Linked DNA regions of Homo sapiens: region 1 is linked to region 2. The links come from fine-mapping of genetic effects on gene expression. A gene starts in region 2. The other region holds a variant in brackets. All regions are shown on one strand. Distances are from middle to middle.

Region 1 (5,368 bases), 160 kb after region 2:
GTGAACACAGGGCACGCAATGGCCCCGGCTGCCATTCCAGCTTGTTAATACTTGCGTCAGATAACCTTGAATTTCTCTCAGCTGGCTGAGCCCTACATGGCTCCCCAAGTTTGGGCGAGGGGTTAGTGGGGTGAATAGCTTTTCAGATCAAGGCCATAACTAAGAATATACTTCAGCTGTGAAAACGTGCCCTTCACCTTGCACAGGGCTACCTTGTGTGTTGAGTACTGAATCCAGCATCACTCCGTTCCACCAGAGGTTGTCATCTGCAGGACCTGGTGTACGTGCGGTTAGATATCAGTGGAGCTGAAACCAGATTCCTCAGACTTCCTCACTCTTAGGCCAGGAGTCTTTAGGGCAATGAGCTCTGAAAGTCAGCGTCCATCAAAATCACCTGGGAAGTTGTTACAAATGCAGAATCTCTAAGAAAAAAGGACACACATGTGCACACGCAGAGGCCATCAGGAATGTGCCCAGCTGGAAACCTCAGGAAACCTGACGATCCTGGCTGAAGCAGATGAAAGCATGTGTTTCTCTCTTGCCAGCAGACACCCACAGGGAGCTAGCCCACGGCAGGACAGCAGCAGGGCCAGGGGCTTCCTTATCTCCCCGCCCATCCCCCTCAGCACGTAGCACTTAGCTCGGGACTGCAAAATAGCCGCAGCTCAGACAGGAAGTGGATAGGGGCAGAGGACTTTCTCCTAGTGACACTTTGTCTGTTGTTCACATCCCCCTCCCGAGGGACTTTAGCTCATATCGTATTGGACAGCACCATGCTGAGAGTAAGATTTTGACAAAGAGGAGGGGATTGGGAATGCAGGGTGAGGCTGGCCAGTCTCTGCCTCTCGCAAGGCTTTCACCAGCTCTCCCACACTTGGCTGTAGACCCAGCCCTCATCTGAACCCTGCTTCTTACCTGTGAACGTCATAACTCAACCTGGGCCCAATTATCTTGCCCACTGAGGAGTTCCTAGCTGGAGTGGGTGAGTGGCAGGACAGGCAGCCCCTACCGGTTCCGGAACGCTTCAGGGCATGACGTGTGTGTCCCCAACAAGCCTGAGAAGGGAGTGAACAGCTGTCCAGGGGCCAACGGCCAGGGTGCCGGGGCTGGGACCCCAAAGGGACTTCCCTTCATGCCTTTTGACTTCGAAATTGTCCTCTACACACAGGTCCCAAACAGGAAACGGTTAACGACTTCTGGAGAATGGTCTGGGAGCAAAAGTCTGCGACCATCGTCATGTTAACAAACTTGAAAGAAAGGAAAGAGGTGAGTTCCAGGCATCTGGCCCCGGTATCACTTCCTTTCAGCTGCTGCTGCCGGGCTGGGGATGTTCTTACCACTTCCTTTTCCTACTTCCCTCCCTTCCTCCCACTATCACTGCAGAAAAAAACCCAAACACATGCAGTGGCTTACAGCATTTTCTTCACGAAACAAATCCCCTGTGTCCCCAGCATCTCACTGTTATCTAATCTGTGATAACACAATGACACAAGAGTTTCCTTTTTTTCCCAAGTAAGAGTGGCCCCCGGCTGGCCCCATGGCTCTGCCTGCCTGATGAGAGACATGAATCTTAGAGTTTTAGGATGTTGAGCGTGTCATGCGGCAGAGCTCAGGCTAGAAATGAACATGATTTCGCGCTTATTATCCAGACTAGAGAAATGCTTTTGGAAAACGTTGGTATATTGAAGAAATGTTGATTTGTCATCCGAATATATTTAATTAGCTGTTTCTAATTCAAAAAAGGATGCATGTACGTTATAAGAATTTGAATCATTGACAAAGAAGAAAAGTTGAACTGATTCGTTTCCTAATGTAACAAGTACTCATTAGCATCTGCTGTGCTGGGCCAGCTCTGTCCCAGGTGCAAGGAGTAGGGGCTCAAATTCAGGGCTGAGAAGTGGTGGCTGTGGGGAGCCTGGGTGCGGGGGTGGGGTTGAGTGACAGGCAGGGAGCCATGCCATAGGCAGTGAGCTCACTCTCCAGAATGAAAGAAGAACTGGGAGCCTGAGGGACACTTACCACAGGTGGGGCGAAGTTAGGAGGCTGTGCTTCTGGCGTGTTCTGGCATGAAGGCCCGGTTCAGTGGGAGCCGTGTGTCCTGCCCGGCCCTGCTCAGGGCCTGCTGTGTCCTGAGCTCCTCAGTCATCTGCTGGCCTGGCCCCAGCAGTTCCCAGGCATTGTAGCGAGGACTGTGGGGAAGGGCTGCCATTTTTAGATGGGAGTACCAGGCCTTGGGGAGCTCAGCTGGGGCAGAAGATGGGTGGCAGGAGCCCACAGGAAGGGCAGGCTGGGAGGTGCTCTGGTCCCCGCAGTGCCAGCTTACTAATTGCCACCCAAAACACAGGAAGCAGCCTCCAGCCACCGTTTCTGGTCAGGAATAGGATGGAGGCTTTCATTCTGCTCTGGGGGGAGCTGAAACAGGACTGTGGAGGGCCACCCCTTTGCCCTTGCAAATCTTGCCCTTGTCATGCTTTGTCATGGGGAAGAGGGAAGAGTGACAGAGGGAAGTAGGG[G/T]ATTCCCAGCCCAGGACTCTTCACTCTGCCTGCGCTGTAGCGGCCATGGAGGAGGACACCCACGCGAGGGAAAAGGAGGCTGACCCTTCATCAGGAGCCTCAGGGTCCCCCGTGACCCATGGCCCATAGGGACCAGTCTTCCTGGGGTTGGTGCTCCAAGCATGAGACCAGCACAGAAGCAGTGGGGCTCAAGGACGCCCTCACTTCCCTCTTTCAGTCATTCTGCTGAAAGTGTCACTGGCATTTTCTCTCCATCTTCCCCCACAACCTCCTACTGGATTTTTCCACTCCTGTGACTCAGTGCTGGGCTGCTGCCGCGTCCTCATTCTCACCAATTCAGATGAAATCATTTCTCAATAGAGTTCCCTTTTTCTTAATTGCTCACACTTCTGTTGTGGTTTCCTTGGCTTCCACATCCTGGGCTCTGCATTGCAAAACACAGCTGCCCTGGCATCTCATGATCGGGTGGGAGGGAGGCAGAGGGAGGGGGTATAAAACCAGCCACCAACACTGAGCCCTTGAGAGGCTGACACATGTTCTCAGTTCCTACTGGAGAGCCTTCAAGGTGAGAAGCTCAGGAGGGACCCCAGGGCTCCCCATAGGGCCAAGACTCACCCAAACCGGGACATGTAGGCATTTGCAATTCCCCTGGGCTGCATCAGAGATGGCCTGTGACCCACAGCCCCGCAGCCCCGCCCGGAGCCAGGTGTAAGGAGGGGGAAGTTGTCGGTAGCCGTCATAACACAATGATGCTGCTCTCTACTAAATACCAGATGCTGTTTGTTTCATAAGACTGTTAATCCTGGAGGCTTGACCACGAGCTGTGCTGCTCAGGGGCCATTCCCTGGATATACTCTCTGACTACTGGCAGGCTTGTTCCATTCCAGACATGTTTCTCTGGCAGATGAAGTAGATCTTTTCCCCCTTGAGGTGGGTCCTCATTCACTCGCGAAGTGATGGAGGACACCACCGGGCAGGTGCTGCGGGCGGTGCTGCAAAATGAAAGGGCTCCTGGAACGTGTATTTTGGGTCATTCTTGCTTCAGAGGTCGGGAAGGTAAAGAAATGGGCCTGTCTGTAGCAATGCACCCTCTTCTGCAGACTCCACGGCAGCCTCGTCCCTGCTAGAGAAAAATGAAGATCGTTAGACCAATCATAGGTTCATCACTCTTGAATGGCAGACTGGCAGTGGTGCAAATTAACTTTGTCCTTAGTGAACTGAGCAGGAAAAACACAAATTGCTGAATCCAGTGGGAAATGTCTGGGGGGAGCACCGTCCTTGCCCTCTAGCCTGAGGGTCACTTGGAGTTAGGTGCCCAGCTCTGAAGGCTACAGGCTCAGCATAACTGGTTGATGGTCAGTTAATAAAATGTATGGGATTCGTGAATGAATGAAGAAATGAGACATTGTTGCTGTCTACATCAGAAAGCCTTGGGGCATCCTAGTCATAGTTTCAAGGCTGCTGTTCACCAGTTACGCAGCCTCAGTTTCCCCATTCAAGAGGTCGACACACGTGAACTTGTTTCTCAGCTGTGGGAGCTGTGTGACTCCAGCTGGTGTGTGTGAGGCCTTCTGTAGTTGGGTGGGGGGATGTCATGATGCATTGCACCCACAGATCTATTTGCTTCTATTAAATTGTTCCGTGCAGGAAAAGTGCCATCAGTACTGGCCCGACCAAGGCTGCTGGACCTATGGAAACATCCGGGTGTGCGTGGAGGACTGCGTGGTTTTGGTCGACTACACCATCCGGAAGTTCTGCATACAGCCAGTAAGCATCTCTAGTTGCTGCCCTTCCAGAAAGATCATTTTCAGAGAGCATCATGCCCAGAGTTAACATCCTTCTGCATTTATGAAGTGCTTTGCTCCCAGCCCGGCACTGTCGCAGCCCTGGCTGAGAGGGTGCAGTGGCCAGGCTGTGATAGGCAGACATGCAAGAGGGCCAAGACACCAGAGGCCGGTGCACAAGGGTCTGCAGGCAGTGCTGGGGGCTCCTAATTCCTAGTGACTCCTCTGGGCCTCTCCAGGAGGAAGACCAGTCATTGGAGGGGCCTGGGGGTGAGGTCCTCCCTCAGTAGCACAGTGACATTTCACACACTGACTGGGAGGTGGGGTTTTTTTCTAACACTTTCCGAATTCTGTCTGAAACCTCCTCGTTATTTTCCACACTTGGGTTCTGCTAGTTCCACCACCCCAAAAGGTTTAAGAGAGAGATCAGTAAAAATATGTGTATGCAAAGCAGATGAAATCAAGATATAGAAGAAAGTTTAAAACCATAGAGAAAAGACAGAAGACCATTTTGTCAGGATTTAAAGATACAGTCATTGGCATAATTAGGTCACAAAATAAGTGTCTGAGGTTCCAAGAAGCCACAGCAAAAAAGGAAAAGGATGAGCTGATTATTCTTATCCTATCCCCTGCTGGCATCTCTCCCAGAAATGTGCACACAGGCGCACACAGGCACTCACATGCACACGCACACACATACTCCCACACACAGGCACACACATGCACACATGCACATACACCCACACACAGGCATACACATGCACACACACCCACACACAGGCACACACACGTACACCTACCCACACACAGGCACGCACATGCACATACTCCCACACACATGCATGCACATGCACACGTACACCCACACACAGGCACACACATGCACACACACGCACACAACCGTACAATGCATGCACGTTCACACACACATGTGCACACACACCCCACTCACATGCACACATGCACACATTCACACATGTGCACACACATACACCCACACACATTCACATGCACACACATGCACACACGCACACACATTCATGCACATGCATACATGTGCACACACACGCA
Region 2 (5,368 bases):
AGGCCTGAGACAGGATCAGACAGCCAGTGTGCCAGGGAGCTGAAGAGGACTCTGTGGACTCAAGAAGGGCCCTAAAAGAGGAGTGGTGAGGTGTTCAGGAGGGCAAGAGGCAGAGGAGCTCCTCAAAGCCTGGGAGGAGGATAGGGGAATTGACTCTGATGTCAATAGGGACCTTGAGCCTATGAGAGGCAAAAATGAAGATGGTGAAGAAGGATGAAGGGCTTCCCTGTGGTAATCAACAGGGCCCTGGCACAAACACTTCTGACAACACGCTTCTGTGTGACAATGATGAATGTCTGTAGACTTTAGAAAGGGTTGAGAATTTTTGGGGTCCAGCAGAGAAGATATTATGAGGAAAGAAGAGCCATCTGCCTCCCCATCATGTTACCAAGGCTGTTCACTTTCCAATAGCAGATGTCTGACAAAGGCAAGTTGTTTCTGTCTTCTTAGCTCACAGTCTCTGCCTCCTCAGCCCTGCAGCGTTAACAAGCAAAACTGTGCTTAGCAGAGCTTTGTAATTATGGCCTTCATGTACATAAGCCTGACTCTGTAGACCACAACAGCAGAAAAATCCAAAGCCTGGTGACGTCATGTGCTACCTGGCCCCACCTCAACCTGGGCTGTTCCTTGGAGGTGCACTCAGGAGGGAGCCACCCGCCCTGCTGGGCTCCGAGGTGACCAGGCTGTCTGCTGCTGCTGGCTGGGGCCCATCCTCCTCTGCTCTGACAGCCCAGACGCCTTCACTGAGCACCTCCTGGCTACTGACGTTGCTTTAGGAGCTTGAGTCTGAGAAGCCATGGAGATCAACAGAGCCTAGGCTGCTGGAGCTTACAGCCCTGGGGGTAGGGGAAGAGGGCACGACAGACACAAAAGGAGCCAATAAACCCACAAATAATTCCAAACTGTGATGGAGGATGTGGAAGAGAGTGGCAGAAGAGATGGATGCAGGGCGATCTTCCAGAAGCCACCAGTAAGAAGGAACCAGGTGCACTGGTTGGAGGAGTCCCAGGCAGGAAGGAGCTTGGCTCTGGCACTGAGAGAAAGGAGCCGTGATTGGAGCCCAGCGGGCAGGGGTGAGAGGCTCAGAGCAGCCAGGGAAGTCAGGCAGAGCCTCGTGGGAGTTTGGGTTTTAATATTCCTGGAGGCTTTTAAGCAGGGGGCTAGCAGGACCCGGTTTACACTTTGTGAGGTGCCTGGGACCAAGTGTGAAGAATGGATCATCTGGGAGAGTGGGTCAGAAGCTGGGGAGCCACTGCAGGTTTTGGAGGGGCGCAGGCAGTGAGATGAAAGGGCAAGATGCATGGAGAAGCCAGTGGGAAGTGGACTTGGGCCCTCTGGGAGGTGGACTTGAGGTGGGACACGGAGGCAGGGACAGGGACGACTGCAGAGAAACTAAGTAAGAGCAAGAGGCAGGTCTGAGACAGCAGGAGACAGCCAGGAGGAGCTGAGCTTGGAGGAGAGGGCCCCAGAGTGGTGCTGCTTAGAGTCATTCCCATACGGATGGTGTTTAAAGCTTTGGGGCTAGACAAGGCCCCCAGGGACAGAAATGGGCAGGGCAGGGCAGGGAGGTGGAGCTCAAGTTCTCCACTGGTTTCGCAGCTCTCCGGCCCCTGTGGAGGGGAAGTCCCACTCTGGGCAAATCACGTGGGGGTGGCCTCTGCCAGGAGGCACCCATTGCTCTGCAGCCTTTGGGGTCCGTAGCTCTGTCTAAACAGGCCTTAAGTATGCTAAGAGTCGTCGGCTGGCAATCGGTGCAACGTGGGGTAACACACCGTAAGTGCCACTTTCTCCCCATCCATTCATTCATTCATAAGCCTAATGAGCTGGGTCCCTACCACAGAATGCAGCTTCCCTCATGAGGGCTGGGCCGTGGCCCCATCCAGAGGGCACGGCACAAAGGTTCAGAACCAACATGCCACCAGTGTCTTTTCTGCTCCTTCCAGGGAACTGCCTTTTCTCTGAAAGCTCCCTAAATAGCTTGAGTGAAATTCCCTGGAAGAAGTCGGCTAGACAGCAGGCCCAGTGCCTGGCTCTGTCGCTCTTCTTTCTCTTTGTGCGTTTTTAACTTTGACAGATACTGCCTTCGGGACAAGCGAGCCCTCTTCTACATCCCCCAGACAGGCGCCTTATCCCCTCCTCTTTCCAGAGGAGGCCACCAGGCCCAGCGACCTCACAGCTCTCCCAGCTTCCTCGCACCAGAAGCGCACGGGGTGCCCTGCGTGTCCCACACCTGCTGCAAGACCAGGGCGAGTCCCTAGTCAGGCCACTTCCTGGTGCACAGGGATAGGGCAGGGAGAGGCAGGGCCTTGCCTTTGCTCTCCACCAGGTGTGAGTGCCTGCCATACCCTGACCCTCTGTCTACGCACCTGGGTCCCGGCGGAGTGGCTGGACCAGGCCTCCCCGGAAGGGGCACCAGCCTTGAGTAAACGGATGCCCACAGTGTCTGGGTGCTCCCAGGGCAGGGCCGCAGGGCCTCAGGGCCATACCCGCCTCGCAGGTGGGGCGGGCGCCCTGGATGCGCTCCCCGCGCCGGGCACCAGGCGTCGCCCCCGCTCCTCGCAGCGCCCAGGCCCCCGCCCCCGCCGCGGAGCCACAGCCGGAGCTGGAGCCGAGGCGGCGGCGGGACGCGGCCGGCCGGACAAATTTCCTGCTAGGCTGCGGACAGCGGGCGGCAGGAGCCGGCGCGAGCGGCTTCAGGAACCCACGGCCTCTGCGCGTCCCCGCGACCCTTCTTCGCGCCCGGCGAAGACAGCCGGGCGCCCCGGAGGGCGGCGGGCAGGCGCCCGGGAGATGCGGAGCCTCCGCTGCAGCGCGATCTGCGCGACCAGACCGGCCCCCCCGAGGTGAGCGCGCGTGCGGACAGGGACCCTGCGCCCCTGTGGGGAACTGTGCACCCCGGGAGGCCCAAGCAGGCCGGGGCGCTGCCTCGGCCGCTGCCGCGGGAGGGAGGGGCCGCTCCGGGGCTCAGAGTCCGGACCCCGGCCCCGCCGCCCCCGCGGCGCGCCCAGTACCAGCGGCTGGGGCCCGTACGACCCCCGACCCCGGCCTGTGGCGCGTCCCCTCACCCGGAGTCCCCAGCCCAACTTGGCGACCACAGTGGCAGTGCTCACGCTCCCTCTCGGTAAACAGGAGGAGGGCGCGCGTGTCTGCGGGTGGCTACAGTGCGCGGGGGCCGGCGGCAGGGCGGCGTACGTGAAAGCGGGCGACACAGAGAGGGGGTGCAGGCCGCGCGTGGGGGGCTGCGCCCACTCGAGGCTGGAGGCTGGAGCCTTTGAAGAAAGTGGCTCGAGTTGTGCCAACTCTGGGAGGGGCCGGCGCTCTGCCAGGATGCTGCCCCGCAGCCGGGCGGGCGCCCGCGCCTTCCCAGGGAGGCAGGTGGAGCGGGATGCAGCAGCCGCCGGGGGTCGGAGATGCGGCAGGGAGACCCTGGCAGGTGGTCCAGGCTGGACTGCCGCGATTTGCAGGGTCGACGACCTCACAGGGCTCCTGAGCACAGATGCGAGCGCGGTGCCAATTCTGAGAGCTCCCGGGACCATCTGGGGAAGGCCGGGCAACCCACAGGATGGGGAGGCAGAGCCAAGCCGGATGGAGACCGCGCTGGACCTGACCTAAATTCCTTCCAGGCATGCAAACCTTTCCAGAAAGATTAGGCAATTATACTTGCAGAATTATGATATTGGTTTGTCTTGAGTCGTGACCATTCCATCAGAGTTTCAATCCAGGAAACTCAAAGAAAGAATACAGCTCTCTGCTTGTATTTTAGAGTGAATGAGCGTATAGGTGAGTTGAATGAACACCAGCAAAGAGTGATCACGTGATACAGAAATTACTGTGTCCATGTCCAGTCAGCTCTGCATTTGGCCCCAGGTACCCCTTGACCCAGGGCGTCTGGAGGTCTTTGTGTCCCAAAGATGGATGAAGTTCTGCCTCTGCACACTAACGACTCTTGTCCATTTAAACTGTGTGTATGTGGGTGGGGAGGGGGGGTGTGGAGGGTCGTTTCCAAAACTGGGATAATGGCCAGAGGAGGGCATGAAATGGTGGGGGCCAGTGGCTGGGGCAAGCGTCTGACCACCACGGTCACTCAGCCAGCATGGTATGGGCAGAGCTCTGTGGTGTGAACAGGGTTAGGGTCTGTACTTTCCAAGCACAGGCTCTTGGCATTTGGGGAGCAAAAGGTCAGAGGCGAGGTGGAGCAGGCCCAAGAGGTGGGGGCTGCGCTGTCAGTGAGAGAGGCCTGACGTACCACCCAGCCCTTCCCAGACAAGGCTCTGCCCCTGAATCTGACCTTGGGGGCCAAGATTTTTGTTCATTGATGTTGGTGATGCCTGTGAGTCACCACCGCCCCCTCCCTGCCCCAACAGACCGTTCCCATGTGGACAAGAGCTAGGAGCTAGATTTGTCTCTGTAAAAGGTCAGGTCACTGGATGTGTCCAGATGGCTTGGGACTTAGTCACACACTCCCTCATCAGTTCCAGTCAAACCAGTTGAGGGAAGTCGATGAGGGTGTTATTGTCTTTACGTGTGATGCTTCTTGGAGGCCCTGTGTGGACACAAAGTGAGGACAATGCGGAAAGTCACACAGAGGCCACCTCTCATTTCTGTGGGGGACAGCTGGCAGAGAGAGATGCGCTCCCTGTGTCAGCACCGCCACCTCCACGGAAGCCTGGAGGAGGTCCTGAAGCACTGTGCCCTGATGGGAGCCCCCTCTTCTCCAGGGATGCGTGTGTGCAAACCATTGCCCCTGAGAGTAGATGCGGCTGTGTGTGTACATCCTTGCCCCTGAGAAGAGAGGTGGCTGTGTGTGCAAATCTTGCCCCCAAACCCCAAGAGAAGATGCATTCACAGTGGGGGTGATGGTAGATGCATCAGTTTCAACTGGTGAAAGTATGCTTCTCCCAGCTGTGCCTCAGTGGGTCCACTGTGCTCCATCTGCACCACCATTAGCCTAGTCTAAGGTGCACCGCTGATCAATATTCCCTCCCTGAAGGCCAGAGGTGTGTTTCTAGGCCCGGCCACTCCTCTGTAGTTCTCCTCCGCAGCTGCCCACTTGACATTTCTCCCTGGGATATCAAATGCCCCTTGACTCAATGCGTCAAAATCAAACTTGTGATCTCCCCTCCCCTTCCAGTACTTTCCCAGTGTTGTCTTTATCCATCCAATTCCACCAGCCTCCATGTTGCTTCTGAAATGTATGCCAGACTATAGTTTCTGTGAAGAGAGGGCAATACTGTATCTCCAGTGCCCAGCCATGTGCCTACCAGTGGAGCCTTGAGGACTACTGTCCATGGATAAACAACTTGGAAGTGAGACCTTCCCGAAGCGCATGTGCTGATGGAGCAAGTGTGTGTCTGTTGCGTGGATGTTG

Direction of the effects. Alleles are on the strand shown, and positions count from the first base shown. SD is a standard deviation of normalised expression in the study named.
For the expression in monocytes of the gene that starts at base 2,637 in region 2, G is the high allele of the variant in region 1 and T is the other (large effect, 0.77 SD a copy in Quach 2016).

Evidence for each region. PIP is the estimated chance that this variant, and not a neighbour inherited with it, causes the effect.
Region 1: its variant is fine-mapped to the expression of PTPRE in monocytes (Quach 2016, PIP 0.95).

The regions. Positions count from the first base shown.
Region 1 is chr10:128,061,915-128,067,282 of GRCh38, forward strand. PTPRE (protein tyrosine phosphatase receptor type E) reads left to right here. Exons shown (of 21, transcript NM_006504.6): 10 at 1,169-1,266; 11 at 4,161-4,280. AS-PTPRE (lncRNA antisense to PTPRE protein-coding gene) reads right to left here and starts at 511. Exons shown (of 3, transcript NR_136150.1): 1 at 213-511. RefSeq lists enhancers at 54-1,253, 585-634, 1,045-1,254, 1,594-2,192. The variant G/T (reference allele first, on the strand shown) is at 2,514.
Region 2 is chr10:127,904,467-127,909,834 of GRCh38, forward strand. PTPRE (protein tyrosine phosphatase receptor type E) reads left to right here and starts at 2,637. Exons shown (of 21, transcript NM_006504.6): 1 at 2,637-2,843. RefSeq lists a silencer at 2,481-2,600.